Linked DNA regions of Homo sapiens. The protein of the gene in region 1 interacts with the protein of each later gene in a pairwise test. Each region holds a gene or a part of one and is shown in the gene's direction. Other genes may lie near its edges.

Region 1 (7,027 bases):
AGAGAGGCCAGACACAAAAGGACGCACAGCATGTGATCCCATTTCTTTTTTTTCTTTTTTGAGATGGAGTCTCGCTCTGTCGCCCAGGCTGGAGTGCAGTGGCGTGATCTCGGCTCACTGCAACCTCTGACTCCCTGGTTCAAGCAATTCTCCTGCCTCAGCCTTCTGAGTAGCTGGGACTACAGAAGCCTACCACCACGCCCGGCTAATTTTTGTATTTCTAGTAGAGACAGGTTTCACTGTGTTGGCCAGGATGGTCTTGGTCTCCTGATCTTGCGATCCGCCTGCGTCGGCCTCCCAAAGTGCTGGGATTATAAGCATGAGCCACCGCGCCCGGGCTTATATTTTTAAAGCGTAAGCTTTGTGGCATGTAAATTATATCTCAATAAAACTGTTTAGGGAAACACACGCTGATACCCATCTTCCCCCCACGCCCTCCTGAATTGGGATCTCGGGGGCGGGAGTGGGTTTCTGTCTTCAGGGCTCTCAGTTCTAGGATAGCAGCTGGGGTTTTTACCGTCCTACCAGCTGGGACCCATGCCTCAGATAGAAGCCCCATTGCCTATGAAATGAGAAGGTATCACATGAGTATTCCAAAATACAGGCCTCCACTTGGGCTCTTTCCAAAAGCAATAGCGAAAGGGACAGTTTCCGTCCCCGGGCCGGTGAGCTGTATTAACTGTTCTGCTCCCGGGGTCGCCATCCAGGCAGTGACAGCCACCGTCGCCAGGCACAGGCCAGGCCAGGCCCTGCCGCCCCCACCTCCATCCCCCTTAGTGGATGTAGATATGATTGTTTGCGACTAGCGAACCCCCTATAGATGCAGATGCCTCCTGAGCCGGCATCTGTGTTGAGTCCTGGCTGCCCAGAAGAGCCAAGTGTGACGCCCCCTCGGGTCTGTGTGGACACCAGGCCGGTGTTTTCCTCTCTCCCTGACACCCCCTCCGGTCTGTGTGGACACCGGGCCGGTGTTTTCCTCTCTCCCTGTAGGAAACGAGCAGATGAAAGTGGAAAACTTTGAAGCTGCCGTGCATTTCTACGGAAAAGCCATCGAGCTCAACCCAGCCAACGCCGTCTATTTCTGCAACAGGTACCAGCTCAGGGCCTGCCCAGGGCAGGGGCGGCCGGGTGCGGGGGCGTCCTCCGGGATGCTTAGCAGGGACCTGAGATGGGAGAGGCCTCTGCGCTGTAGATGAGGGATCCATTCACCGGTGGTCTCAGACCAGGAGCGAGCATCAGGTGACCAGCAACGGGGTCGGGGAGAGTCGATGCTGATTTAAAATCAGGTAGCACGCCCAGCACTCTGGGAGGCCATGGGGGAAAGATCACTTGAGGCTAGGAGTTCGGGACTAGCCTGGGCAACATATCAAGACCCCCGTCTCTACAGAAAATGTAAAAATTAGTCTGGGGGCCAGGCGCGGTGGCTCACGTCTGTAATTCCAGCACTTTGGGAGGCTGAGGCGGGGGGGATCACTTGAGGTTGAGAGTTCAAGACCAGCCTGGCTAACATGGTGAAACCCCGTCTTTACTAAAAATACAAAATTAGCCGGGTGTAGTGGTGGGCACCACCAGTTACTCAAGAGGCTGAGGTATGAGGATGGTTTGAACCTGGGAGGCAGAGGTTGCAGTGAGCCAAGATTGCGCCACTGCCCTCCATCTTGGGTGACAGGGAGACTCTGTCTCAAAAAAACCCCGAAAAAAACCACAAAAATTAGCTGGATGTGGTGGTGGGTGCCTGTAGTCCCAGCTACCTGGGAGGCTGAGGCAGGAAAATCACTTGAACCCGGGAGGCAGAGGTTGCAGTGAGCTGAGATCGTGTCACTGCACTCCAGCCTGGGCAGCAGAGCAAAACCCTGTTTCAAAAATAATAAATACATAAATACATACATAGAAAATCAGGTATCATGGCATTCCACGTGGATGTCAAGCCAAGAAAATAATCCAGTATGTGGAGGGTTGTGTTTTTTGAATGTGTGGTCTTGGATCTGCTTCAGGCTTACAGGACAGTTGCAGAGGCAGTGCAGGGTTCCTGGCCGCCTGTCATGGGGTAGTTTAGTCTCCACTCACTCTTCTCTGTACTTTGAAAAAATTGTAAAGAGAAACACTAAACACGAAAATGGTGAAGACGATTCAGACGCTGTAAGCCAAGAGCTTTGAGCTTTGACATTGGTCTGAGTTCTTTTTTTACTGATATGTAAATAATTTGTGAATGAAACTTGGGTATAAGTTCCCTACCCTCATTGCTCTTGTACAGCCATGGATCGGAACATTTTTTGCAAATAAAATTCAGAGTCGCAGTCCTGAGTGGCTGCTGGTGCTTTGAGCCCACATTTGTCTAAGAGCATCTCAGTGGCCACACCTCTCAGCTTTCCCCATCAGCCCCATTTTACAGATGGGGAAAACTGAGGCCGTTCCTCCAGGAAGTTGGAGAGGAACGCAGCTCTCAGGCTCCCCTCAAGGGCTGCCCGCTGGGCTCAGAGCCGCCAGTGAGGGACCTGCCCTGCCTTTTCTTCCCCAGAGCCGCAGCCTACAGCAAACTCGGCAACTACGCAGGCGCGGTGCAGGACTGTGAGCGGGCCATCTGCATTGACCCGGCCTACAGCAAGGCCTACGGCAGGATGGGGTGAGTGCCTGTCCACGGCCGCGCCTTTCCAGTCTCTCGGGACCCCTCCTCTCCTGCTCCTGCTTCCTCTCTTGTGTGGCTTTTTTCCCACCCACAACGAATTCTCCCACCCCGGTTCAGTTCAACTCTGACACTAGCTGTTCGGAGCCAACGTAGTCCCTACAGGTCACAGGCTCAGCCCCACAGACGCCCCGCATCAGGTGCCACCCGGAGATCCCTGGGCCCCTTGCTTCTCCCTGACTGGCTGTCACCTGGGGTTCCCATGGCTCCTACTCAGGCTCCATTGTTTGCTGGGGCGGCTCACAGAGCTCAGGGAAGCACCTGGTTTATGATGAAGGACACAGGACAGGTCCGAGAGTGAGGCCAGGAGGGTCCCCGGGGCAGGAGCCTGCGCCCCGTGCAGCCGGTGCCGCCCTCCCAGCATAAGCGTGCATTCGCCTGCTTCTCTGAATGCCCTTGCTCAGAGTTTGTGGGATTGGGTCTCCCCAGAGGCTGGGGAGGGGCCCTGTTCAACTGCCCAGTCTCCCCAGGACCCGCCTCCTCCTGGGCTCTGTAGGGGCCCTGAGTCACCTCACGAGTGAAGACTCACTCAGGTGGGGGTCAGGGGCTGCTTGTGGATGACGGGAGACATGTCTGTCGCTCAGAGGTTCCGAGGGTCCTTGGTGCCCTGTGCCGGGAAGCGGGGCCAAGACAACATCCACGCATTTCCTGTGACCCTGAGCTGGCCCGCTCCCTCCTCTCAGCCCGCTCTGGGCTTTGAGGCCCTGTGTGTGGCCCCATGGGGACTCCAGTTCTTGTGTGGCAGGGGTGTTCTCATGTCTGTCTCCCTCAGTCCTGCCCCTGGGCCCCTCGAAAGCCAGGTTTGTCTCCACTGAGCTGACAGCGGGCAGGGGGTGGCACCATCCGAGGTGGTTTGGGGGTTGCCAGGACCGCCGGGGACGAGGGCTTTGGCGGGGCCTCCTGGAGCTGGGCAGATGGGAACAGTCCATCCCCGGTGCTCTCCTCCAGCCTGGCGCTCTCCAGCCTCAACAAGCACGTGGAGGCCGTGGCTTACTACAAGAAGGCTCTGGAGCTGGACCCCGACAACGAGACATACAAGTCCAACCTCAAGATAGCGGAGCTGAAGCTGCGGGAGGCCCCCAGCCCCGTGAGTGCAGCGGGGGCGAGTGGCTCCAGAACGCCGAGCTGACTGTGTGGGTGGGGGACAGGTCCTCGGGCGCACCAGTGGCTCTAGGCTTAACCTGGGTGTCGTGAGGGTCCGGGGTTTGTTTCAGTTGGTGGTGAGATGCACAGGCGTGGAAGTGAGTGTCGTGAGAAGGTTCATGCCCCCAGACCCCTGGAAGCAGGAGGCCGGCCGCAGGGCTGCCCGCGGAGGCTGAGGGAGGGGCACAGAAAGGACCCTCGATGTGGGTTTTGTGGCGAGGCCGGGTGAGGAGGCTTCGGGTTGGCTGGTTGGAGCCATTTCATTAGACCCAGGCCTGGGGGCTGCCCCTGGTTGCCTGGTCCCTGGCCTGGGGGTGAGTGGGGCAGGTGGACTGTGGCCCTGGGGTGATGGGGGAGGTGCTGAGGGTGTGGGTTCTGGGTTAGTTTGTTTGTATTTCAAAGGTGCGTTTCTGGGTGAGTCATTTGCTTTCTCTGGGAATTGGCTACTCCAGGAGGGGGCGGCTCTGCCAGGCCAGCAAGGCCCCAAGGTGTCAAAGCGGCAGAATACAGGAAATCAACACGGGATGATAGACTGTGCCGTCCCCGGGCGGTCGCGCTGTACGGGGAATAAACACGGGATGATAGACTGTGCCGTCCCCGGGCGGTCGCGCTGTGCGGGGAATAAACACGGGATGATAGACTGTGCCGTCCCCGGGCGGTCGCGCTGTGCGGGGAATAAACACGGGATGATAGACTGTGCCGTCCCCGGGCGGTCGCGCTGTGCGGGGAATAAACACGGGATGACAGACTGTGCCGTCCCCGGGCGGTTGCGATGTGCTTCGTGCTGCCTGCCTCAAAGCACCCTCTGGCCGCAGGGTTGATAGAATGTCTGAGCCCCGTGGGGGGCCGTTGTTTCTGAGTTCCAGGGGGTTATTCACCGTGGCCTCTGGTCCAGGCCCCACTAACCAGGGCTGTTCTCATCCTCAGACGGGAGGCGTGGGCAGCTTCGACATCGCCGGCCTGCTGAACAACCCTGGCTTCATGAGCATGGTAACGGCCCGCCCCTCCTCCCTGTCCATGGTGTCTGCGCCACCCCCCAGGCCCGCATCTGCTGTGTCCGCTACTGGCCAGGGCTTCCTTGCCTTGGCACTGCTGGCTTCTGGAACCAGATGGGTCTTGTCTGTGGGGTCGTCCTGGGCACCGCAGGGCGCTGGCAGCACCCCTGGCCTCACCCGCCCCATGTCAGGAGCACCCCCACCCTCTGCTTCGACAATCAAAAGTGTCCCCAATGTTGATGTCCCAAGCAAGACCCATCAGTAGTGAGCACCAAAAGCTGGCTCTCCTGGCTGAGCCCAGGGAGGTCACACCCCCACCCCACCCTGGCGTGGGCTCCTCCTCGCAGTGCAGAGACACTGATCACAACACAGCAGCGTCTGCCTCCTAAGGTTCAGGCAAGGGAAGCAGAGCGCCGGGTGCGCCGGGCGCAGGTGGACCTCCCGATGCCCGGGCACTCATGCTTCCAAAGGGACGGCCTTTGGCAGGGAGTTCCTTGACTGGGATCCTCGGAGAGCCATCCCCCACACACACATGTTCATTTCCTGGGAGGTCTGTGTGCCCTGGGACCACTCTTCAGGCTCCCACAGCCTCAGGGTACAGGGACTCGCCTAAGGCTGTCGGGGAGAAAAGCCCTCAGTCTCACTGTCAGTCAGAAAAATGAGCCAGCTGGGCCAGGAGCCCTGCCCGGGTCGTGCCATTCAGCAGAGGCCACACCTCTTACTGTAGCCCTCGTCCGCTGGCCAAGCTGCCAGGGGAATATGTTCTCCCTCACCATGGGATGGAGGGTGACTGGGCCCCAGTCTTTCAAGGGGCCTCTCAGCTTGGCCATGTCACAGACGCCTTTTCCCTTCAGACATCTGGGGTTGGCAGAATAAGGCCCGCCGCTGGGTTTTGTTAATAAAGTTTTTTTTGGTTTTTTTTTTTTTTTTTTTTTTTGAGATGGAGTCTCGCTCTGTCGCCCAGGTTGGAGTGCAGTGGTGTGATCTCAGCTCACTGCAACCTCCGCCTCCCAGGTTCAAGCGATTCTCCTGCGTCAGCCTCCCGAGTAGCTGGGATTACAGGTGCCCACCACCATGCCTGGCTAATTTTGGTATTTTTTAATAGAAATGGGGTTTCACCATGTTTGCCAGGCTGGTCTCGAACTCCTGACCTTGTGATCCACCCGCCTCGGCCCCCCAAAGTGCTGGGATTACAGGTGTGAGCCACTACACCTGACCAATAAAGTTTTATTGGCACACAGCCATGCCCATTCATACACCTAGTGTCACTGGTGGCTTTCATGATACGGCGGCAGAGCTGAGTAGTTGCGTCAGGCACCCGTGTCTGAAAAGGCTGAGAGTATTTACACACTGGCCCTTTACACAGAGAGTTTGCCACACCTCTGAGCCACCTCCTTTCAACAGGTCCAAAGGAATAATCCCAAGTGGAAAGTTAACATGAGAAAGTGCCCAGTATAGTGCTATTTATTTATTTATTTATTTTTACTTCTTTTTTGAGACAGAGTCTCACTCTGTCACCCAGGCTGGAGTGCAGCGGTGTGATCTCGGCTCACTGCAACCTCCCCCTCCCAGGTTCAGGCGATTCTTGTGCCTCAGTTTCCCAAGTAGCTGGGACTACAGGCATGCACCACCACACCTGGCTAATTTCATATTTTTAGTAGAGACGGGGTTTCACCATGTTGGTTAGGCTGGTCTCGAACTCCTGACCTCAAGCGATCTGCCTGCCTCGGCCTCCTAAAGTGCTGGGATTCCAGGCGTGAACCACCGCGCCCAGCCACAGTGCTATTTATTGATAGAGCAAAACTGGAACCAAATATGCTAAATGAAATATGCTAAAGCAGACAGCAGCTAAAATAAAGAACCAAAACGCCTCCACACAGCAAAACCGCAGCAGCCAGTGAGAGAGCGCTGTGGCGCTGCGAGATCGCTCCTGAAGCAGGAACCCAAAACAGGATTTAAGTCACAATGTGGAGGTCACAGCTCGTGGGTGGGGGGGCGAAAATGTAGGGAAAAGGGTATGAAAGACCGAATGCCCGGCTCTTACTGTTGGTTGGCGTGCTGGAGTCCAGAACCAAGGCTGGTTAAGATGGAAAGTGTCTGATGAAAGAGAATGATGCGCTGGGAGCTTTGTCTTCCTGACAAATTTGTTCTGTTCTTCAGGCTTCGAACCTAATGAACAATCCCCAGATTCAGCAGCTGTAAGTGA
Region 2 (5,777 bases), on another chromosome or scaffold:
CGAGCCCTGCCCCGCGGGGAGGCAGCTAAGGCCCGGCGAGAAATCGAGCGCAGCGCTGGTGGGCCGGCACTGCTGGGGGACCCAGTACACCCTCCGCAGCTGCTGGCCCAGGTGGTAAGCCCCTCATTGCCCGGGGCCGGCAGGGCCAGCCGGCTGCTCCGTGTGCGGGGCCTGCCAAGCCCACGCCCACCCGGAACTCCAGCTGGCCCGCAAGCTCCGCGCTCAGCCCCGGTTCCCGCTCGCACCTCTCCCTCCACACCTCCCTGCAAGCTGAGGGAGCCGACTCTGGCCTTGGCCAGCCCAGAAAGGGGCTCCCACAGTGCAGCGGCGAGCTGAAGGGCTCCTCAAGTGCCGCCAAAGTGGGAGCCCAGGCAGAGGAGGCACCGAGAGTGAGCAAGGGCTGTGAGGACTGCCAGCACAATGTCACTTCTCACTAGGATTATAAGGGTGAGCCACCACACCCAGCTCTTTTATTACAGTATAATGTTATAATTTTTTTCTTTTTCTTTGTTTTTTTTTTGAGACGTTTGAGACGGAGTCTCACTCTGTCGCCCAGGCTGGAGTGCAGTGGCGCGATCTCGGCTCACTGCAACCTCCGCCTCCTGGGTTCACGCCATTCTCCTGTCTCCGGAGTAGCAGGGACTACAGGCGCCCGCCGCCAAGCCCGGCTAATTTTTTTTTTTCTATTTTTAGTAGAGATGAGGTTTCGCCGCGTTAGCCAGGATGGTTTCGATCTCCTGACATCGTGATCTGCCCGTCTCAGCCTCCCAAAGTGCTGGGATTACAGGCGTAAGCCACTGCGCCGGGCTAATTTTTCTATTTTGTTATTGTTGTTAATCTCTCTTTTTTTTTTTTTTTTTTTTTTTTGAGATGGAGTCTCTCTCTGTTGCCCAGACTGGAGAGCAGTGGCGTGATCTCAGCTCACTGCAACCTCCACCTCCCAGGTTCAGGTGATTCTCCTGCCTCAGCCTCCCGAGTAGCTGGGGTTACAGGCACGTGTCACCATGCCTGGCTTATTTTTGAATTTTTGTAGAGACAGGTTTTCCCCATTTTGGCCAGGCTGGTCTCAAACTCCTGACCTCAGGTGATTTGCCCGCCTCAGCCTCCCAAAGTGCTGGGATTACAGACGTGAGCCACTGCGCCGGGCATTGTTGTTAATCTCTTACTGTGGGTAATTTAGTAATTAAACTATAAGAGGTATGTATGTATGGGGGAAAAAACAGTAATATAGGGTTTGGTGCAATCTGTGGTTTCAAACATCTACTGGGGGTCGTAGAACATATCCCCAGTGGATAAGGGGGTACTACTGTACTTGTTGGCTCTTCATGTTAGCTCTGCTAGGCAGATGTCATTTCAGAGATGAGGAAGCAAGTTCAGAACGGCTTGGAATCTTGCTCAGGAAATCGGGCTGGTTAATGAATAACAAGAGATCCAGTTTCACAAACCCAAGGCATTTTGCCCCCAGAATCTGGGCTTCTTCACCCATTTAGGCTGTCACTACTTTTTTTTCACTTTTTTATCCCTGTTTAAGTCAGTCTGACCCACAGTTGTCCTCTGCTGACTTCAGAAATAATAATCTGGCCAGTAGACATTTGGTTTCGGTCCTTTAGGCCCTTCGCCCCAGGCATCGTTCTCTATGGTGGACAAAGTTCAGAATGGAAGATGGGAGAAAGGTGATTCTGATTCTAGAAGCACCCATCCCTCCTACCCCATTCCCCACCCGCATTACCTGCCATCCTGTCAGCACAGTCTGTCTCTGAAGTGCTCCAAGTTTTCTCTAAGGGCCCATTTGGACTCCCACTCTCAAGACTCCTCACTTGCCCAGAAAGCTCCTTGCTGACCTTCTCTGTGTCTTCCTCTCACCCATTCCCTTAGGCCTCCCTAATATCCCCTCCCAGGGTCTCCCTATCTTGATCCCAGAATCTTCCTTCTACAGGTCTGCTACAATGCTGCTGCTGCACAGAGCTGTGGTCCTCAGGCTCCAACAGGCCTGCAGGTAGGCCAGCCCATCCCAGGACTTGCCTCCTAGCCCCTATCTGCCACCCTTAGTGTCTTTTACAATGTCATACCTTGCAAATAAGACAGTTGAGAGAGTGTGTCCAGGGAGGACAGAGAAAGCCAGATCCCACTTTTCCCACCTATCCCTGGAGAAACTAAGTTCCAACTTAAGGAACCAATGGCCAACCAGGGAGAAAGAAGTAGACCCCAAGCCTTCACTAGCCCTTTCACATGACCATACGTGCTACTAAGACCGACCTCTCTTCCAGACTCAAGTCAATCCCCTCAAGGATCTGCATTCAGGCCTGCTCCACAAATGATTCATTTCAGCCCCAGCGCCCCAGCCTCACCTTCTCTGGTGATAACTCCAGCACCCAGGGATGGAGAGTCATGGGGACCCTATTAGGTCTCGGTGCAGTGTTGGCCTATCAGGACCATCGGTGTAGGGTAAGTAGGGAAAGTGCTTCATTGTCAGAACAGACTGGGTGCAGTGGCTCACGCCTGTTATCCCAGCACTATAGGAGGCCAAGGTGGGTGGGTCACTTGAGGTTAGGAGTTTGAGACCAGCCTGGGCAACATGGCAAAACCCCATCTCTAGTAAAAATTAGCCAGGTGTGGTGGTACATACCTGTAATCTCAGCTACTTGAGAGGCTGAGACACAAGAATCACTTAAACCCAGGAGGCTAAGTCTGCAGTGAGCCAAGATCAAGATCAGGCCACTGCTCTCCAGCCTGGGTGACAGAGTGAGACTCCATCTCAAAAAAAAAAAAAAAATTGTCAGAATAAAGGAATCAGTCCTAGTAAACTCCACAGGCAACCCAGGCTGTGACCCATGTTCTTGTAGTTACCACAGAGTTCACAGTGACGCAGTCTTCATGCACAGTGGAGATGAAATCTGCTAATCTGCTACCTTCGCTTCCCAGTGGCCAACACCGTGGGTTGGGTCAGGGTGAGCTCAAGTGATTTCTTCTTATTCTTCTTCATTTTTTCTTTTTTTTTTTTTTGAGATGGAGTTTCACTCTTGTTGCCCAGGCTGGAGTGCAATGGCATGATCTCAGCTCACCACAACCTCCACCTCCCGGGTTCAAGTGATTCTCCTGCCTCAGCCTCCCAAGTAGCTGGGATTACAGGCATGCACCACCATGCCCAGCTAATTTTGTATTTTTAGTAGAGACAGGGCTTCTCCATGTTGGTCAAGCTGGTCTTGAACTCCCGACCTTATGTGATCCGCCCACCTCGGCCTCCCAAAGTGCTGGGATTACAGTTGTGAGTCACCACGCCCGACCAAGTGATTTCTTCTTAATAGTCTCTTCCCTTTTATCTTACTCCTTCCCTGCCAATAGGCTGCTCAGGAGTCAACACACATATACACTAAGGAGGAAGTGAGTTCCCACACCAGCCCTGAGACTGGGATCTGGGTGACTCTGGGCTCTGAGGTCTTTGATGTCACAGAATTTGTGGACCTACATCCAGGGGGGCCTTCAAAGCTGATGCTAGCAGCTGGGGGTCCCCTAGAGCCCTTCTGGGCCCTCTATGCTGTTCACAACCAGTCCCATGTGCGTGAGTTACTGGCTCAGTACAAGATTGGGGAGCTGAATCCTGAAGACAAGGTAGCCCCCACCGTGGAGACCTCTGACCCTTATGCTGATGATCCTGTACGTCACCCAGCCCTGAAGGTCAACAGCCAGCGGCCCTTTAATGCAGAGCCTCCCCCTGAGCTGCTGACAGAAAACTACATCACACCCAACCCTATCTTCTTCACCCGGAACCATCTGCCTGTACCTAACCTGGATCCAGACACCTATCGCTTACACGTAGTAGGAGCACCTGGGGGTCAGTCACTGTCTCTTTCCCTGGATGACTTGCACAACTTTCCCAGGTACGAGATCACAGTCACTCTGCAGTGTGCCGGCAACCGACGCTCTGAGATGACTCAGGTCAAAGAAGTAAAAGGTCTGGAGTGGAGAACAGGAGCCATCAGCACTGCACGCTGGGCTGGGGCACGGCTCTGTGATGTGTTAGCCCAGGCTGGCCACCAACTCTGTGAAACTGAGGCCCACGTCTGCTTTGAGGGACTGGACTCAGACCCTACTGGGACTGCCTATGGAGCATCCATCCCTCTGGCTCGGGCCATGGACCCTGAAGCTGAGGTCCTGCTGGCATATGAGATGAATGGGCAGCCTCTGCCACGTGACCACGGCTTCCCTGTGCGTGTGGTGGTTCCTGGAGTGGTGGGTGCCCGCCATGTCAAATGGCTGGGCAGAGTGAGTGTGCAGCCAGAGGAAAGTTACAGCCACTGGCAACGGCGGGATTACAAAGGCTTCTCTCCATCTGTGGACTGGGAGACTGTAGATTTTGACTCTGCTCCATCCATTCAGGAACTTCCTGTCCAGTCGGCCATCACAGAGCCCCGGGATGGAGAGACTGTAGAATCAGGGGAGGTGACCATCAAGGGCTATGCATGGAGTGGTGGTGGCAGGGCTGTGATCCGGGTGGATGTGTCTCTGGATGGGGGCCTAACCTGGCAGGTGGCTAAGCTGGATGGAGAGGAACAGCGCCCCAGGAAGGCCTGGGCATGGCGTCTGTGGCAGTTGAAAGCCCCTGTGCCAGCTGGACAAAAGGAACTGAACATTGTTTGTAAGGCTGTGGATGATGGTTACAATGTGCAGCCAGACACCGTGGCCCCAATCTGGAACCTGCGAGGTGTTCTCAGCAATGCCTGGCATCGTGTCCATGTCTATGTCTCCCCATGAGCATGGAAAGGAGCCACCTCCACCCCTTTCCCCACCCATTAGCCTCACTGCTTCAGAAAAATCTTTCCCACCTTTCAACTTCTTGGATCACAACTCTGGCCTTCCTAAGCCATACCCAAGTACACATATAGCACATTTCACCCAAGGACCTTCCCTCTTTGGACACTATGTTACATACCCCTCTTGGCCTTTGAACCTGTGCCAGGAAGTGTGAGCTGTTACAGCAAGGGGCTAGAAGTGAAAAAAGTAATTCTGGAGACAAGCACTATTTTCTCTTCCTACCCCACCTCCATTTCTAATGCCTACTGCCATCAAGGCCTTGTTTTGCTTTTCTTTTTGGATTGTTCAGAGAAATGTGTGTGGCATGTGTAAGAAAAGTGTATATACTATCTTATACTACCTCTCCAGGTTGCCAGAGAGTTGCGAGGAGAGCAAGGGGCACAACCGTCTCCCTTTATAGTTCTACTTTTCTAATAAATAGTCTGTTTAAGATCATAACTCTTGGGCCTGGGGAGTGAGCCTATTGCAGGAGGAAGGATGCATTTGTACTGGGATGTATAATGAGATTAGACCAAAACAAACAAAACTGGGGAGGAAGACAGAGAGGAAGTAGGCTTGTAGGTTAAGAAGTAGGGCTTCCGGCTGAGCACAGTGGCTCACGCCTGTAATCCCAGCACTTGGGAGGCCAAGGCAGGTGGATCACTTGAGGTCAGGAGTTCGAGACCAGCCTGGCCAACATGGCAAAACCCAGTCTCTACCAAAAATACAAAAATTAGCTGGGTGTGGTGGTGGGTGCCTGTAATCCCAGCTACTTGGGAGGCTGAGGCAGGAGAATCGCTTGAACCAAGGAGGCAGAGGTTGCAGTGAGCCGAGATCACACCCACTACACCCCAGCCTGTGCGACAAAGCGAGATTCTGTCTCAAAAAAAGGGGGGCTTCCTTCTCTGAGGTTTGGCAGTATCTGCAGGGACACCTAGGTGATTGACCTCAGGATACCATGAAGAGAGGAGAGGTGACAAAAACAT
Region 3 (7,379 bases), on another chromosome or scaffold:
CCAACCCACACTCTTCCAGTCCACACTCTTCACAACCCAAACATGCTGAGGGTAGACGCCTCAAAGGCGAGGAGACACTAGCCCCAGCTGTCCGGGAGCACCAATGGTCATTACCCCTTCTCATCCCTGCAGACGTTGGCACGGTGCTGAAGGTGATCTCGGTCCCCAAGGGCAGTAGGCCCAGCGCAGAGGGGCTGCTCCTGGAGGAGCTGCACGTGTTTGAGGTGAGGCCTCACCCCCAGTCGCCCGGGACCCCCCCACCCCACTAAGCCCTGACCCCGTCGCCCCTCCTCCCTCTCAGGACTCGGCCGCTGTCACCAGCATGCAAATTTCTTCCAAGAGGGTGAGTGACCAGGATGGGGGTCGGGGTGGGATGGACTGAGCTTGTGCCTGGCGCGTCCCAAGCCTCTGGCCCCTTTTGGTAGTTTGCAGTCCCGGGTTTGAGTACAGGCTCTGGCTTTGTTAGACTGTGTGACCTGAGGCGTAAGACCTCAGTGTTCCCATCTGTCGAGTGGAAGAAGGGATCCCTGACCGATGGGAGGCAGGCGTGGGGTCGCCCTCGGTCAGCCCAGAGCCCCTCGTGCCCCCTAGCACCAGCTGTACGTAGCCTCGCGGAGCGCGGTGGCCCAGATCGCGTTGCACCGCTGCGCTGCCCACGGCCGCGTCTGCACCGAATGCTGTCTGGCGCGTGACCCCTACTGCGCCTGGGACGGGGTCGCGTGCACGCGCTTCCAGCCCAGTGCCAAGAGGTGGGCGGGGTCGGGGTTGGGCCGCCGGGAGGGAGGCGAAGGGTCTTTCACTGCCCGGGGCTGAAAGAAGGGCTCACAGAAGATCGGATGTTCCCCACAGGCGGTTCCGGCGGCAAGACGTAAGGAATGGCGACCCCAGCACGTTGTGCTCCGGAGGTGAGTGCCCCAGCTGCCCCTACCCTCAGCCCCAGAAGACGCCCCACCTGCCCTGCCTTGCCTAAATCTGACTTTCTTCTCGCCCCAAGACTCGTCTCGTCCCGCGCTGCTGGAACACAAGGTGTTCGGCGTGGAGGGCAGCAGCGCCTTTCTGGAGTGTGAGCCCCGCTCGCTGCAGGCGCGCGTGGAGTGGACTTTCCAGCGCGCAGGGGTGACAGCCCACACCCAGGTGAGCCTTACTCCGCCCTCCCCGCCAGGCTCCTGTCCCACCCCCTGCATCCAGGAGAGGCCCCGCCCTACCCAACGAAGCCCCGTCCAACCAGACCCACTCCCCGCCCTGTCCAGTTTGGTCCCTCACCTGCACTCCACAAGCTGCTGAGGCCCCATTGCGTCCAACGGGGCTCCCGACCCGCCTCCCCTGAATCAAGGAGAAGACCCGCCCTCGACCCTCCCATTAAGGTCCCTGACCACCCCCCACCAAGTTCATGTAAACCCCGCCTCTTTCGGATTCTCCCTTGAAGACCACCAGCTCCCAAACACTCAGCCTTAAAATGTGCGCCTGCGGGCACCCCTTTCCCGCTCCACCTCGGCTCCCAATGACTCTTTGCTTCTTCCGTCGCGTGCTAGGGCCCGGAAGCCCTGTTCCCGGCCCGACACCCCCGCCTCACGCTGCCCTCTGCCCGCAGGTGCTGGCAGAGGAGCGCACCGAGCGCACCGCCCGGGGACTACTGCTGCGCAGGCTGCGGCGCCGGGACTCGGGCGTGTACTTGTGCGCCGCCGTCGAGCAGGGCTTTACGCAACCGCTGCGTCGCCTGTCGCTGCACGTGTTGAGTGCTACGCAGGCCGAACGACTGGCGCGGGCCGAGGAGGCTGCGCCCGCCGCGCCGCCGGGCCCCAAACTCTGGTACCGGGACTTTCTGCAGCTGGTGGAGCCGGGCGGAGGTGGCAGCGCGAACTCCCTGCGCATGTGCCGCCCGCAGCCTGCGCTGCAGTCACTGCCCCTGGAGTCGCGGAGAAAGGGCCGTAACCGGAGGACCCACGCCCCTGAGCCTCGCGCTGAGCGGGGGCCGCGCAGCGCAACGCACTGGTGACCAGACTGTCCCCACGCCGGGAACCAAGCAGGAGACGACAGGCGAGAGAGGAGCCAGACAGACCCTGAAAAGAAGGACGGGTTGGGGCCGGGCACATTGGGGGTCACCGGCCGATGGAGACACCAACCGACAGGCCCTGGCTGAGGGCAGCTGCGCGGGCTTATTTATTAACAGGATAACCCTTGAATGTAGCAGCCCCGGGAGGGCGGCACAGGTCGGGCGCAGGATTCAGCCGGAGGGAAGGGACGGGGAAGCCGAGCTCCAGAGCAACGACCAGGGCCGAGGAGGTGCCTGGAGTGCCCACCCTGGGAGACAGACCCCACCTCCTTGGGTAGTGAGCAGTGAGCAGAAAGCTGTGAACAGGCTGGGCTGCTGGAGGTGGGGCGAGGCAGGCCGACTGTACTAAAGTAACGCAATAAACGCATTATCAGCCAAAGCTGGAATGGCCCCAGCAGAAAACCCCAGTCCTCGGCCTTGCTATGTGGTCTTGGGCACCTTACTAGCGGTGTCAGGGCCCGAGTTTCTCCTGTCCAAGGTTGCCTGGTGAGGATTAAAGGTGGTTCCGGCCAGGCGCGGTGGCTCACGCCTGTAATCCCAACACTTTCGGAGGCCCAGGCGGACGGATCACGAGGTCAGGAGATGGAAACCATCCCGGCTAACACGGTGAAACCCCGTCTGTACTAAAAATACAAAAAATTAGTCGGGCGTGGTGGCGGGCGCCTGTAATCCTAGCTACTCAGGAGGCTGAGGCAGGAGAATTGCTTGAACCTGGGAGGTGGAGGTTGCAATGAGCCTAGATCTCGCCGCTGCACTCCAGCCTGGGCGACAGAGCGAGACTCCAAAAAAAAAAAAAAAAAAAAAAAAAAAGGTGGTTCCGCGTGACTGAACAGGTTCTGTAGGGCCTTTGGGAATAGTGACACGCAGGGTACATTGTGCATAATATAACTTCAGGACTAAGTGCTAGGAAGAAAATAAAACTGGACCGGGCGCAGTGGCTCACGCCTGTAATCCCAGCATTTTGGGAGGCCGAAGCAGTCGGATCATGAAGTCAGGAGTTCAAGACCAGCCTGACCAACATGGTGAAACCCTGTCTCTACTAAAAATACAAAACTTAGGTGGGTGTGATGGCACGCGCCTTTAATCCCAGCTACTCAGGAGGCTGAGGTAAGATAATTGCTTGAACCAGGGAGGCAGAGGTTGCAGTGAGCCGAGATCGCCCCACTGCACTCCAGCCTGGGCAACAGAGCGAGACTCTGTCTCAAAGAAAAGAAAACTGGGTGATGTGGAAAAGAATGTACACAGAAGGCCTCACTGAAGGGGTGGCATTTGAGTTCGCTGACAAGACGGGGCTGGCCACAGGGCTATCTGGGAGCAGAGCATTCCAGGAGGGAACAGCCACCACCAAGCCCCTGAGGTGGTAACAAGCTTGTTGACTTTGAGGAACATCAGGGAGGCCAGTGTGAGACAACGGAGTGACAGGTTTGAGGTGTGTAGGAAGTAGAGCCCACAGTCTTGCTTTGCCCCCACTGGGAAGGAAGGGCACAGGGATCCAACCACAGAGGGAAAGCTGGAAGCTGGACCACCTCCTCCTTTCAAGGTAAGCAGTGATGCGCATCCTTACACAACCTTATGGGACCTGTCTGCCCTTGTGGAGATGGGAGCAGGGGAAGACCAAAACCGTGGATTGTGCTAAATGCTCCAGATGTTGTTCTCAGTGTACACTGCCAGGGAGGAGCCACTGTTATTCCGACTTTACACATGAGCAAACTGAGTTCAGAGAGGGGAGACCCTTTACCTAAGGTTGCAAGCTTAGTAACAAATGAACCAGCCTCCAACCTAGGTCCACCCACTGGCCAGCATGGGTGCTGTTGGTGTATCTGCCCACTTGTGAAGCTATCAGAGCCCTCATGGCATTGGGATTCAGTTGTCCATCACCCTCTATAAGACACACACAACAATAGCATTGTGTGCTAGCAGGTCATGCAGTGGAGGCTGCTGTGTTTGCTGGGAGGAGAGATGACTGGGCTGTGGGTAGGAGTCTGCAGGGGTAGAGGGGTGGCCAAATAGAGATGCACAGGCTTCCTTTGTCTGTCTTGGCTGCCACATGGGGCCTTGCTGAGCCTGGAGTGGCCATTCTGGATGTATGGGGGAGGTGTGCTTCCCCTTGAAGGTCCCTGGGCACCTGGACTAGTGGAGGCAGGCTCCTGGCTGGCTCCCTCACCAGGTAGATAGTTCAGGCTGGCCCACGTGGATCACTCTGCCCCTTCCCATGGCTGAGGGCTGCCCCCTCTAAATATAGCCCAGTGGGCTGAGCTCAGGCCTATTTTAGGCCAAGGCTGGGAGGCAGCCAGGCCTTCCCTGGGCTCACAAAGGAGCCACTGCTGCATTTGTCCAGTCCTGCTACTGGATGCCATCATTGGCCCCCGACTGCCCACTGCTTGCCATGCCTGAGGAGACCCAAGAAGGTAGGAGAGGGTGACCATGAGGGAGGGCAAGGCCTCAGTCCTGTGACCTTGTGGACCATGGAGAGACCCACCCTCTGTCCCACTGACCTCACTGTCTTGAGTAGTTAGTTACCCATTTTCATGCTCCAGCTCCAGTAAAAGGACCTGCCCCCTGTGCAGGGAGGAAAAGCCTGCCATGCCTGGAGCCCCTTGTCACCTCAGGCCCTGCTTCAGTTTCCCCTGCTGGGGACATCAAGGAGGGATGGGAGAAGCTACCCAGTTAGGAGTGGGTCAACTACAGGCTGTGCTCAGGTGGGTGTGGGCATCCGGTCAGCTGCCTGGCCGGTTCAGCTCTTAAGGAAGGAAGCTGGGATTGGGGTGGGTAGTGGTTCCAGAAAGCATTTGGGTACCTGTCCCATGGACTGAAAAGTAGTTAGGCCTCTGGCCTCCCCTGACTTGGGTCTAAATATCCCCAACTGCCTAGGGTTGGGGGTCCCTTGGCCTGGTCAGACAGAGACTCAGCTAGTCAAGAGCTTGGTGGCCACTCACCTAACTGCACCACTGCATATAAGAAGTACTGATGCTCAGAGGGGCCAGGGCAGCAGGAATCTAGGAAGCTACAGGTCCAGTACTGGCCAGGACGTAGGACTGTCTGCTCCATGGCTCCATGTTATGGCCCATGACAGAGCATGGCCCAGCTAGCAAGCTCCTCTTATCACATTTTCAACTTTTTTTTTTTTTTTGAGATGGAATCTCGCTCTGTCACCCAGGCCGGAGTACAGTGGCGTGATCTCGGCTCACTGCAACCTCCGCCTCCCAGATTCAAGCAATTCTCTGCCTCAGCCTCCCAAGTAGCTGGGATTACAGGCGCCTGCCACCATGCCTAGCTAATTTTTGTATTTTTAGTAGAGACGGGGGTTCACCATCTTGGCCAGGCTGGTCTTGAACTCCTGACCTCGTAAGCCACCCACCTCAGCCTCCCAAAGTGTTGGGATTACAGGGGTGAGCCACCGCGCCTGGCCTCAACTTTTTTTTTTTTTGTCACCCAGGCTGGAGTGCAGTGGTGCGGTCTCGGCTCACTGCAACCTCTGCCTCCCAGATTCAAGCTATTCTCCTGTCTCAGGCTCCCAAGTAGCTGGGATTACAGGCATGTGCTACCATGCCCGGCTAATTTTTGTATTTTTAGTAGAGACAAGGTTTCACCGTGTTGGCCAGGCTGGTCTCAAACTCCTGACCTCAGGTGATCCACCCACCTTGGCCTCCCAAATTGTTGGGATTACAGGCGTGAGCCACTGCCAACATTTTCAACATTGCAGGAGAGGGGCCTTGCCCCTGGTAGGGGGAAATGTTTACTTTCATGCATGTGTGTGTGTAGAGAAGGGTCTCCCTGGTCTTGAACTCCTGGCCTCAACCAATCCAATCCTCCCACCTTGGCCTTTCTTTTCTTTTTTTTTTTTTTTTGAGATGGAGTCTCGCTCTGTCGCCCAGGCTGGAGTGCAGTGGCGCGATCTCAGCTCACTGCAAGCTCCGCCTTCCGGGTTCACGCCATTCTCCTGCCTCAGCCTCCTGAGTAGCTGGGACTACAGGAGCCCGCCACTACGCCTGGCTAATTTTTTGTATTTTTAGTAGAGATGGGGTTTCACTGTGTTAGCCGGCATGGTCTCGATCTTCTGACCTCGTGATCCACCCACTTCGGCCTCCCAAAGTGCTGGGATTACAGGTGTGAGCTACCGCGCCCGGCCAGCCACCTTGGCCTTTCAAAGTGCTGGGATTAGAGGCATAAGCCACTGTGCCTACCCTCTTTTGGGATCTTAACAATAACATTTACTGTGTGTTTTTCCTGTAATAAACAATTCACATTCAATTTAGAAAGTGTGAGAAAAGCACAACAAAGTACAAAGAGGGAAATTTTTTTTTTTTTTTGAGACAGAGTCTTGCTCTGTCGCCCAGGCTGGAGTGCAGTGGCACGATCTTGGCTCATTGCAAGCTCTGCCTCCCGGGTTCATGCCATTCTCCTGCCTCAGCCTCCCGAGTAGCTGGGACTACAGGCGCCAGCCACCATGCCCAGCTAATTTTTGTTTTGAATTTTTTAGTAGAGACGGGGTTTCACTGTGTTAGCCAGGATGGTCTCGATCTCCTGACCTCGTGACCTGCCCACCTCGGCCTTCCAAAGTGCTGGGATTACAGGCATGGGCCACTGCGCCCGGCCCTTTTTTTTTTTTTTTTTTCTGAGACGGAGTCTTGCTCTGTCGCCCCGGGTGGAGTGCAGTGGCACGATCTCTGCTCACTGCAACCTCTGCCTCCCAGGTTCAAGTGATTCTCCTGTCTCAGCCTCCCAAGTAGCTGGGACTACAGGCGCCTGCCACCATACCTGGCTAATTTTTAAATATTTTTGGTAGAGACGGGGTTTCACCATATTGGCCAGGCTGGTCTCAAACTCCTGACCTTGTGATCCACTTGCCTTGGCCTCCCAAAGTGCTGGGATTATAGGTGTGAGCCACTGCGCCCGGCAGCAGGGAATTTTTTTTTTTTTTTTTTTTTTTTTGGAGATAGGGTCTCACTCTGTTGCCCAGGCTGGAGTACAATGGCATGATCACAGCTCACTGCAGCCTTGACTTCCTGGACTCAAGCAACCCTCCCACCTCAGCCTCCTGAGAAGCTGGGACCACAGAAGCATGCCACCACACCAAACTAATCTTTAATTACTTTTTTGTTTTTTGAGACGAGGTCTAGCTCTGTCGCCCAGGCTGGAGTGCAGTGGCTTGAGCTTGGATCACTGCAAGCTCCGCCTCCTGGGTTCAAGCTATTCTCCTGCCTTCAGCCTCCTGAGTAGCTGGGACTACAGGCGCCCATCACCATGCCCGGCTAATTTTTTGTATTTTTAGTACAGATGGGGTTTCACCATGTTGACCAGGCTGATCTTGAACTCCTGACCTCGT
Region 4 (7,027 bases), on another chromosome or scaffold:
AAAACCAGCATTATTGCTGGGAATGGAAATCATTCAACTTCTCTATCAACTGTTATCAAAAGTGAAAATGCAGGCCCGGGTGTGGTGGCTCATGCCTGTAATTCCAGCACTTTGGGAGGCTGAAGTGGGCAGATCACTTCAGGTCAGGAGTTCGAGACCAGTCTGGCCAATATGGTGAAACCCCGTCTCCACTAAAAATACAAAAATTAGCTGGGTGTGGTAGAGTGTGCCTGTAATCCCAGCTACTTGGGAGGCTGAGGCAGGAGAATCGCTCGAACCTGGGAGGCAGAGGTTGCAGTGAGCCAAGATTGCGCCACTGCACTCCAGCCTGGGCAACAGAGCGAGACTCCATCTCAAAAAAAAAAGTGAAAATGCACGTGCCTTCTTATCCAATAGTTCCATTTCCAGGAATGTGCACAAAGGTATATGTAAAAGAACATTCACTGCAGGCATTTTTGGGTGGGAGGGTGGCAAAAGGTTGGAAACCACCTGCCTATCCATCAATAGGAAATTAGTTAAATAAATTATAGTATATCTATACAATGAATTACTGTGTAACCAGTAAAAAGAATGAAGTAGAGCTATACTTATTAATATGTTAAAAATAAAGTGGAGGCCAGGCATGGTGGCTTCATGCCTATAATCCCAGCACTTTGAGAGGCTAAGGTGGGAGGATCACTTGAGCCCAGGAGTCTGAAAGCAGCCTGGGCAATGTAGGGAGACACAATCTCTACAGAAAATTAAAAAGTTAGCCAGGCGTGGCGGTATCCGCCTGTGGTCCCAACTACTCAGGGGGCTGAGATGGGAGGATCCCTGGAGCCTGGGAGGTCGAGGCTGCGGTGAGCTGTGATTGTGCCACTGCACTCCAATCTGGGCAACACAGCAAGACCCTGGCTCAAAAAAAAAAGTGGACAAGACTATATTCCACTTTTGGGATATATATTGAGCATCAGTGCCAGGCTTTGTTCTAGGCACTGGGCATAAAGCAGTGACCAAAGTAGACACTACTCCCAATCCTCTATGAGCTTTCATTTCAGAGGAGGAGTTTCACATATGCATGTATCTACACAGAATACATCTGGAAGAATATGCAGTCATCTGATGACATTAAGTGTTCCTGGGAAGGAGGCCTCAGGGTCAAGGATGAGAAGATTTCTTTTCACTCTAACATTTTGTACCATTTGAAAGTTTTATAAGGCATGTATTAATTTTTCCAAAATTAAAATTTTAAATTACAAAAATTGCATGTAGCAGAACAGAGAAGAAAATTTTTAAAGCAGGCAGGAGGATGGGCAGCCTGATAGGCTGTACCTTGCATCCTTAGTTAGGTTCTTGCTCCGTGTTGCTGCTTGAAGGCTATACAGAAAGAATCTTTGCCTCCTTACCCTATTTAGAGCCACTGCTGACTCCACCGGTTTGAAATAGTAAAGATTAATTTTCCACAATGAGATATTGGCATTGCTCCCAAATATTTCATGGAAGTGGCATGCCTTCTTTGAGGCAGTTGTCTTAGTCATTAAGAGTTCTTTCCAGCAAAATCGGGGCATCAGTGCCCCACACTGGATTGGCGGGTGGTGGGGGGGTGTCAGTGCTTTGAGTCAGACCCAGTCAGGCTTAAAACTCCTAAAGAGACAATTTCCAGATAACTTCAGCTTTATTTTTAATGCTTTTTGCCAATAATTTGATCCCATCAGAACAGCTCCCATGGTACCATAATTCATATATCCTGTTTTTATTTGTATAGGAACCTAGGAGAAAGAGAAGGAAAATTGAAAATAAATTAAGTCAAATGCAATACTTGTGCTAAAAATGTTGTCAAAAGTTGAGGCCACTTCTAGGCAAAATGTTGGAGGCAGAGTTTGCCTTTCAGTCTCTTTCTCATTTTCAAAGTTTTCCTTTCTGTCTTGCGTTGTGTCTTCAGATGCCTCCACATTCTGCCTACCACTAGAGCACCCACTCTCCTATCTGCCTAGAGCACACACATCTGTCATCATCAGGTGCTCATCCAGGGTTCACCGCCATCAGGCAAAGGACCACTTAGCTTATCTTTTTCATAAACTAATTTATGCTTAGATATGAATGACTACCCAGGCTGCCTAAGCTCTTAATAAATCAGAAACTTGCTGCAGAGATATAGAAGTTTGATGTGAAACAAGTTCATATTCAATTGGAGGTATCTCTAACAAACATTAAAGTGATTAATCTCACTAGTAATACCACCAGCACCCTCATTTTACAGAGTAAGAAACTGAGGCCCAAAAAAAGTGTTAATTGGACCATAGTTAATACTGACCTTGCCTGCGTTACATTAGGCATTGTAATCCAATACCTTGGATTACATTATTTTAAAAGTTGCAGTGTAGACCTTAAGTAACTGTTTAACAAACAACCTCTTGATTAAATAAGCATTTAAAAGTAAGTTGTTATTAAGACCTAACATTAGCTATAACTTTATTTTAGGTAGTACTTGAAGAAGTCTTTCTTCTGCAAAATATCCTTGTCTCATGTCACAGAACAACCCTGCATGTCTTGAAATGCATGTGACTTGTTAGTGCTTAAATAACAATACATGCGGTATGTATATATTCTTTACCTTAATTCCTACTTCTTTGATCTGCTTCTCTAAATATAAGTAATTCCGTAGCAAATGCATATTTTCCTCATTTTTATACTTTAGTTTTTTTTAAAAAAAAAAAAAAAACAAGAAAAAGAGGTAATTGGCAATATATCCTTTTTTTTTTTTTTTTTTTTGAGATGGAGTCTTGCTCTGTCACCCAGATTGGAGCGCAGTGGTGTGATTGATCTTGGCTCACTGCAGCCTCTGCCTCCCGGGTTCAAGCTATTCTCCTGCCTCAGCCTCCGAGGAGCTGGGATTACAGGCACACGCCACCATGCCTGGCTAATTTTTGTATTTTTAGTAGAGATGGGGTTTCGCCATGTTGGCCAGGCTGGTCTCGAACTCCTGGCCAGCCAGGCTGATCTCGCCCTCCTGGCCAGGCGCAGTGGTATAAGCCAAATAAGAATTGCTTGAACCTGGGAGGCAGAGGTTACAGTGAGCCGAGATCGCGCCATTGCACTCTAGCCTGGGTGACAGAGGAAGATTCTTGTCTAAAAAAAAAAAGTGGTATAAGCCACTGCGCCCGGCCAATATTTTCTATGTTTATAGCAAAATTGTTCAAAAACTGCATATGTACCTACAATATTTTTTCTTAAGAAATTCAAGTTTTGGGCTGGGCACAGTGGCGTATAGCTGTAATCCTAGCACTTTGGGAGGCCGAGGTGGGTGGCTCACCTGAGGCTAGGAGTTCAAGACCAGCCTGGCCAACATAGTGAAACCCCGTATCTACTAAAAATACAAAAAATAGCTGGGTGTGGTGGCTTGTGCCTGTAATCCCAGCTACTTGGGAGGCTGAAACACAAGAATCACTTGAACTCGGGAGGTGGAGGTTGCAGTGAGCCAAGATCGCGACACTGCACTACAGCCTGGGCAACAGAACAGATTCTGTCTCAAAAAAAAAAAAAAACGAAAAGAAAAGAAATTTGAATTTGTGTTTTGAGTTTGCCTTGAATTATTGTCAGGAGACAATAATTCTGTCATAAGGAGATAACTGGAAAAAATAGGAATGGGTTTTATAAAACAATCATTGACTCAATCTCTAGCTCTTCTACTCTAAAGTCAGGTAATATGTGGTGCATTAGGTTAGGACTTTTATGTTAGTCATATGATGCATGGGTAGATCTTTCTATGTTTTCTCTTTGAAAACTACTAATCTGCTACTCCTTTTGGCTATAACTCACAAACTCTTTTCTCTTCAGACTATATAAAGACTTTAGCTAGAATGCTTCACTTTTTTATTAAAGAAATTGCTGTTTCCTTCCAAGGACAAACATTTTAAAAATAAATGATATGGGTCATTCATTCGGCAAATATTGGACTGCCTGTAGTAGATTAGGCACTGTGTAGGACACTGGCAATATACTGATGACACAAGCTACCCGCTGCCCCTTAGCAAGTCATTTTTGCAAGTCACTTTTATGACATATTTATCTGAAATAGCCCATCACTTATTAAAATCACCTGTGACATCATGGCCTGGCACGGTGACTCACGCCTGTAATCCCAGCACTTTGGGAGGCCAAGGTGGGTGGATCCTTTGAGGTCAGGAGTTTGAGACCAGCCTGGCCAACATGGTGAAACCCCATCTCTATTAATAAAGTATAAAAAATTAGCCAGGATTGGTGGCAGGCACCTGTAATCCCAGCTGCTCGGGAGGCTGAGGCAGGAGAATTGCTTGAACCTGGGAGGCAGAGGTTACAGTGAGCCGAGATCGTGCCATTGCACTCCAGCCTGGGTGACAGAGGAAGATTCTTGTCTAAAAAAAAAAAAAAAATCTGTGACATCAGCTAATAGGTTAACTTAATTAAAGAGAGCAATTCTGGCCAGGCACAGTGGCTCACATCTGTAATCCTAGCACTTAGGGAGGCCAAGGCAAGCGGATCACCTGAGGTCAGGAGTTCAAGACTAGCCTGGCCAACATAGTGAAACCCCATCTCTACTAATAATGCAATGCCTGGTGTGCACCTGTAATCCCAGGTACTCAGGAGGCTGAGGTAGGAGAATGGCTTGAACCCAAGAGGCAGAGGCTGCAGTAAGCGGAGATTGCACCACTGCACTCCAGCCTGGGAAACAGAGTGAGACGCCGTCTCAAAAAAAATAAATAAAAATAAAAATAGGTATTCAACTTATTGCTTAAAAATGTATACAATTTCTTTGTAAAATTGTTACTGAATTTTTATTTTAATTCTTTTTTTTTTTAATAGAGACAGGGTCTCACTATGTTGCCCAGTTTGGTCTCAAACTCCTGGGCTCAAGTGATCCTCCTGTCTCGGTCTCCCAGAGTGCTAGAATTACACGTGTGAGCCACTGTGCCCAGCCTGTTACTGGATTTTTCTATCATTGCACTTATTTTTTAATGTCTATAAAAAATTTGAAAGACAAATATATTAATACTTATGTTTTATTTATGCTTCCAAATAACTACACAAAATCACTTTCTAAAAGATGACTCATCTATGCTTTGCAATTTTTCTGCCCATGCATTTCTTCTCTGTGCCACCTCTCTTCTGTGTTGATGATAGGAGAGTACAGTTGTCTCTCAGTACCTGTTAGAGATTGGTTCCAAGACCTTCTCATGGATTCCAAAATCCACAGAAGCTCAAGCCCCTGATACAAAATGGCATCACATTTGCACATAACCTCTGGACATCTTCCGGTGTACTTTAAATTATCTCTAGATTACTTATAATATCTAATACAATGTAAATGTTATGTAAAAGATTGTTATATTGTATTGGTTAGGGAATAATGACAAGACAAAAGTCTGTACATGTTTATTACAGACACAACTATCCTTTTTTTGTATGAATATTTTCAAGCCGAGACTGGTTGAATCCACAGATGCAGAACCCACAGATATAGAGGGTCATATCCATGCATTAATAAAAAGTTTATGATTTTTACTTAAATTAATCAAGAAATAGTGGTCCCATAGGTCCTTTGAATTGACTTGGTTTGGAAACATATGGAAAAAATATTCCTAAAAAAGTATTTATAAAAAAAAGAGAAAAAAAAACAAAAAAGAAAACTATTGAAAAGCCGAAAAAAGTTATAAAAGATGAGAAAAAATTAAAAATTGTGAGTATTCAGATAGCAATTCTTATCAACATGAAATAATATAATATGGTTATGGCAGTTCATGAATAGATATTTGAACTATATCTTTACATAAGTTAAACTGTTAAAATTTATACCCTTAGCAGAAGGCAAGATTCCACCGGATGCTACATTGATTTTTGAGATTGAACTTTATGCTGTGACCAAAGGACCACGGAGCATTGAGACATTTAAACAAATAGACATGGACAATGACAGGCAGCTCTCTAAAGCCGAGGTAATTCAAACCAATTTCATGTGTATAGTCTAATTTTTTTATCACAGTTTAAATACATCTGTGTTACAACTATTACTTTTTAGGTCTAGCTAGCATGGGCTCTGATCACTGCTTTTATAGAGCTGGTCACTAAAAAATAATCTAAGCGCTTAGAAAAAGCTCTAAGCTTTTTCAGTATAAACCTTGTGAGTCATCCTGTTCAATTGCCTTTCTCCCTGCAAGAGAGTCATTAAAATCCCGAATTATTTGTCTCTACAGTGCTCTTCCAGTTTCTAGATTACACTAGCATATCTCTTTTTCAGACAGCACTGTAAGAATTTGCAACAGGGCAAATAATTCACGCCTCATAGGATGATGAAAAGAGCTAGCAAGGGTCTGAATTGAGTGGGCTAGAAAGTTGGTAAACAGGAGCCAGAAGTTCAGCCAGCTAGCGTCTGTATCTCAGCCTTGTAATAAAGATCTTGTAATAATAATGATAATTGGGCTGGGCATGTGGCTCATGCCTATAATCTCAACACTTTGAGAGGCCGAGGTGGGAGGATTGCTTGAGCCCAGGAGTTCAAGACCAGCCTGGGCAACACAGGGAGACCCCCGTCTCTACAAAAGATTTAATAAATTAGCCAGGCATGGTGGTGCATACCTGTGGTCCCAGCTACTCAGGAGGCTGAGAGGTAGGAGGATCGCTTGAGCCCAGGAGGTTGGGGCTGCAGTGAGCTGTGATCATGCCACTGCACTCCAGCCTGGAAGATAGACTGAGACCTTGCCTCCAAAAAAAAAAAAAAGATAATAATAGATAACATTTATTTTATACTTTTAGTACCAGGTACTATTTATAAGCACATAAGTATGTGAACTTATGTAATCTTCATGATAGTTTATGGGGCAGACACTATTGTCATCATCTTCGCTTTTAGATGGGGAAAATAATAATCAGGTTAATCAGCCAAAAATCACACAGTAGTAAGGGGCAAAACCTGGGCAATCTGGCTTCATGACTGTTCTTACATTTCAATTTTTTAAATTTTTCTTAGAGACAGGGTCTTTCTCTGTTGCCCATGCCAGGGTGCAGTGAAGTG

The links.
Region 2: the proteins of SGTA (region 1) and SUOX interact in binary tests that used the Homo sapiens proteins (3 or more experiments, as listed by UniProt).
Region 3: the proteins of SGTA (region 1) and LSMEM2 interact in binary tests that used the Homo sapiens proteins (3 or more experiments, as listed by UniProt).
Region 4: the proteins of SGTA (region 1) and FKBP7 interact in binary tests that used the Homo sapiens proteins (3 or more experiments, as listed by UniProt).

What each region holds. Positions count from the first base shown.
Region 1 is NC_000019.10:2,759,249-2,766,275, reverse strand, and holds part of SGTA (small glutamine-rich tetratricopeptide repeat-containing protein alpha), read left to right. Parts: intron 1-990; coding exon 991-1,090; intron 1,091-2,518; coding exon 2,519-2,623; intron 2,624-3,631; coding exon 3,632-3,770; intron 3,771-4,753; coding exon 4,754-4,816; intron 4,817-6,981; coding exon 6,982-7,019; intron 7,020-7,027. UniProt on the Homo sapiens protein: Co-chaperone that binds misfolded and hydrophobic patches-containing client proteins in the cytosol. Mediates their targeting to the endoplasmic reticulum but also regulates their sorting to the proteasome when targeting fails.
Region 2 is NC_000012.12:56,000,276-56,006,052, forward strand, and holds the end of SUOX (sulfite oxidase, mitochondrial), read left to right. Parts: intron 1-1,936; 5' UTR 1,937-1,946; coding exon 1,947-1,996; intron 1,997-2,267; coding exon 2,268-2,445; intron 2,446-3,342; coding exon 3,343-4,752; 3' UTR 4,753-5,250; downstream 5,251-5,777. UniProt on the Homo sapiens protein: Catalyzes the oxidation of sulfite to sulfate, the terminal reaction in the oxidative degradation of sulfur-containing amino acids.
Region 3 is NC_000003.12:50,274,711-50,282,089, forward strand, and holds the start of LSMEM2 (leucine-rich single-pass membrane protein 2), read left to right. Parts: upstream 1-4,376; 5' UTR 4,377-4,403; coding exon 4,404-4,461; intron 4,462-7,379. Other genes in the region: SEMA3B (semaphorin-3B isoform 3 precursor), read left to right, coding at 133-224, 302-343, 592-749, 850-905, 995-1,134, 1,592-1,996.
Region 4 is NC_000002.12:178,468,576-178,475,602, reverse strand, and holds part of FKBP7 (peptidyl-prolyl cis-trans isomerase FKBP7 isoform a precursor), read left to right. Parts: intron 1-1,635; exon of another isoform or gene 1,636-1,748; intron 1,749-2,460; exon of another isoform or gene 2,461-2,574; intron 2,575-4,078; exon of another isoform or gene 4,079-4,166; intron 4,167-5,817; coding exon 5,818-5,951; intron 5,952-7,027. UniProt on the Homo sapiens protein: PPIases accelerate the folding of proteins during protein synthesis.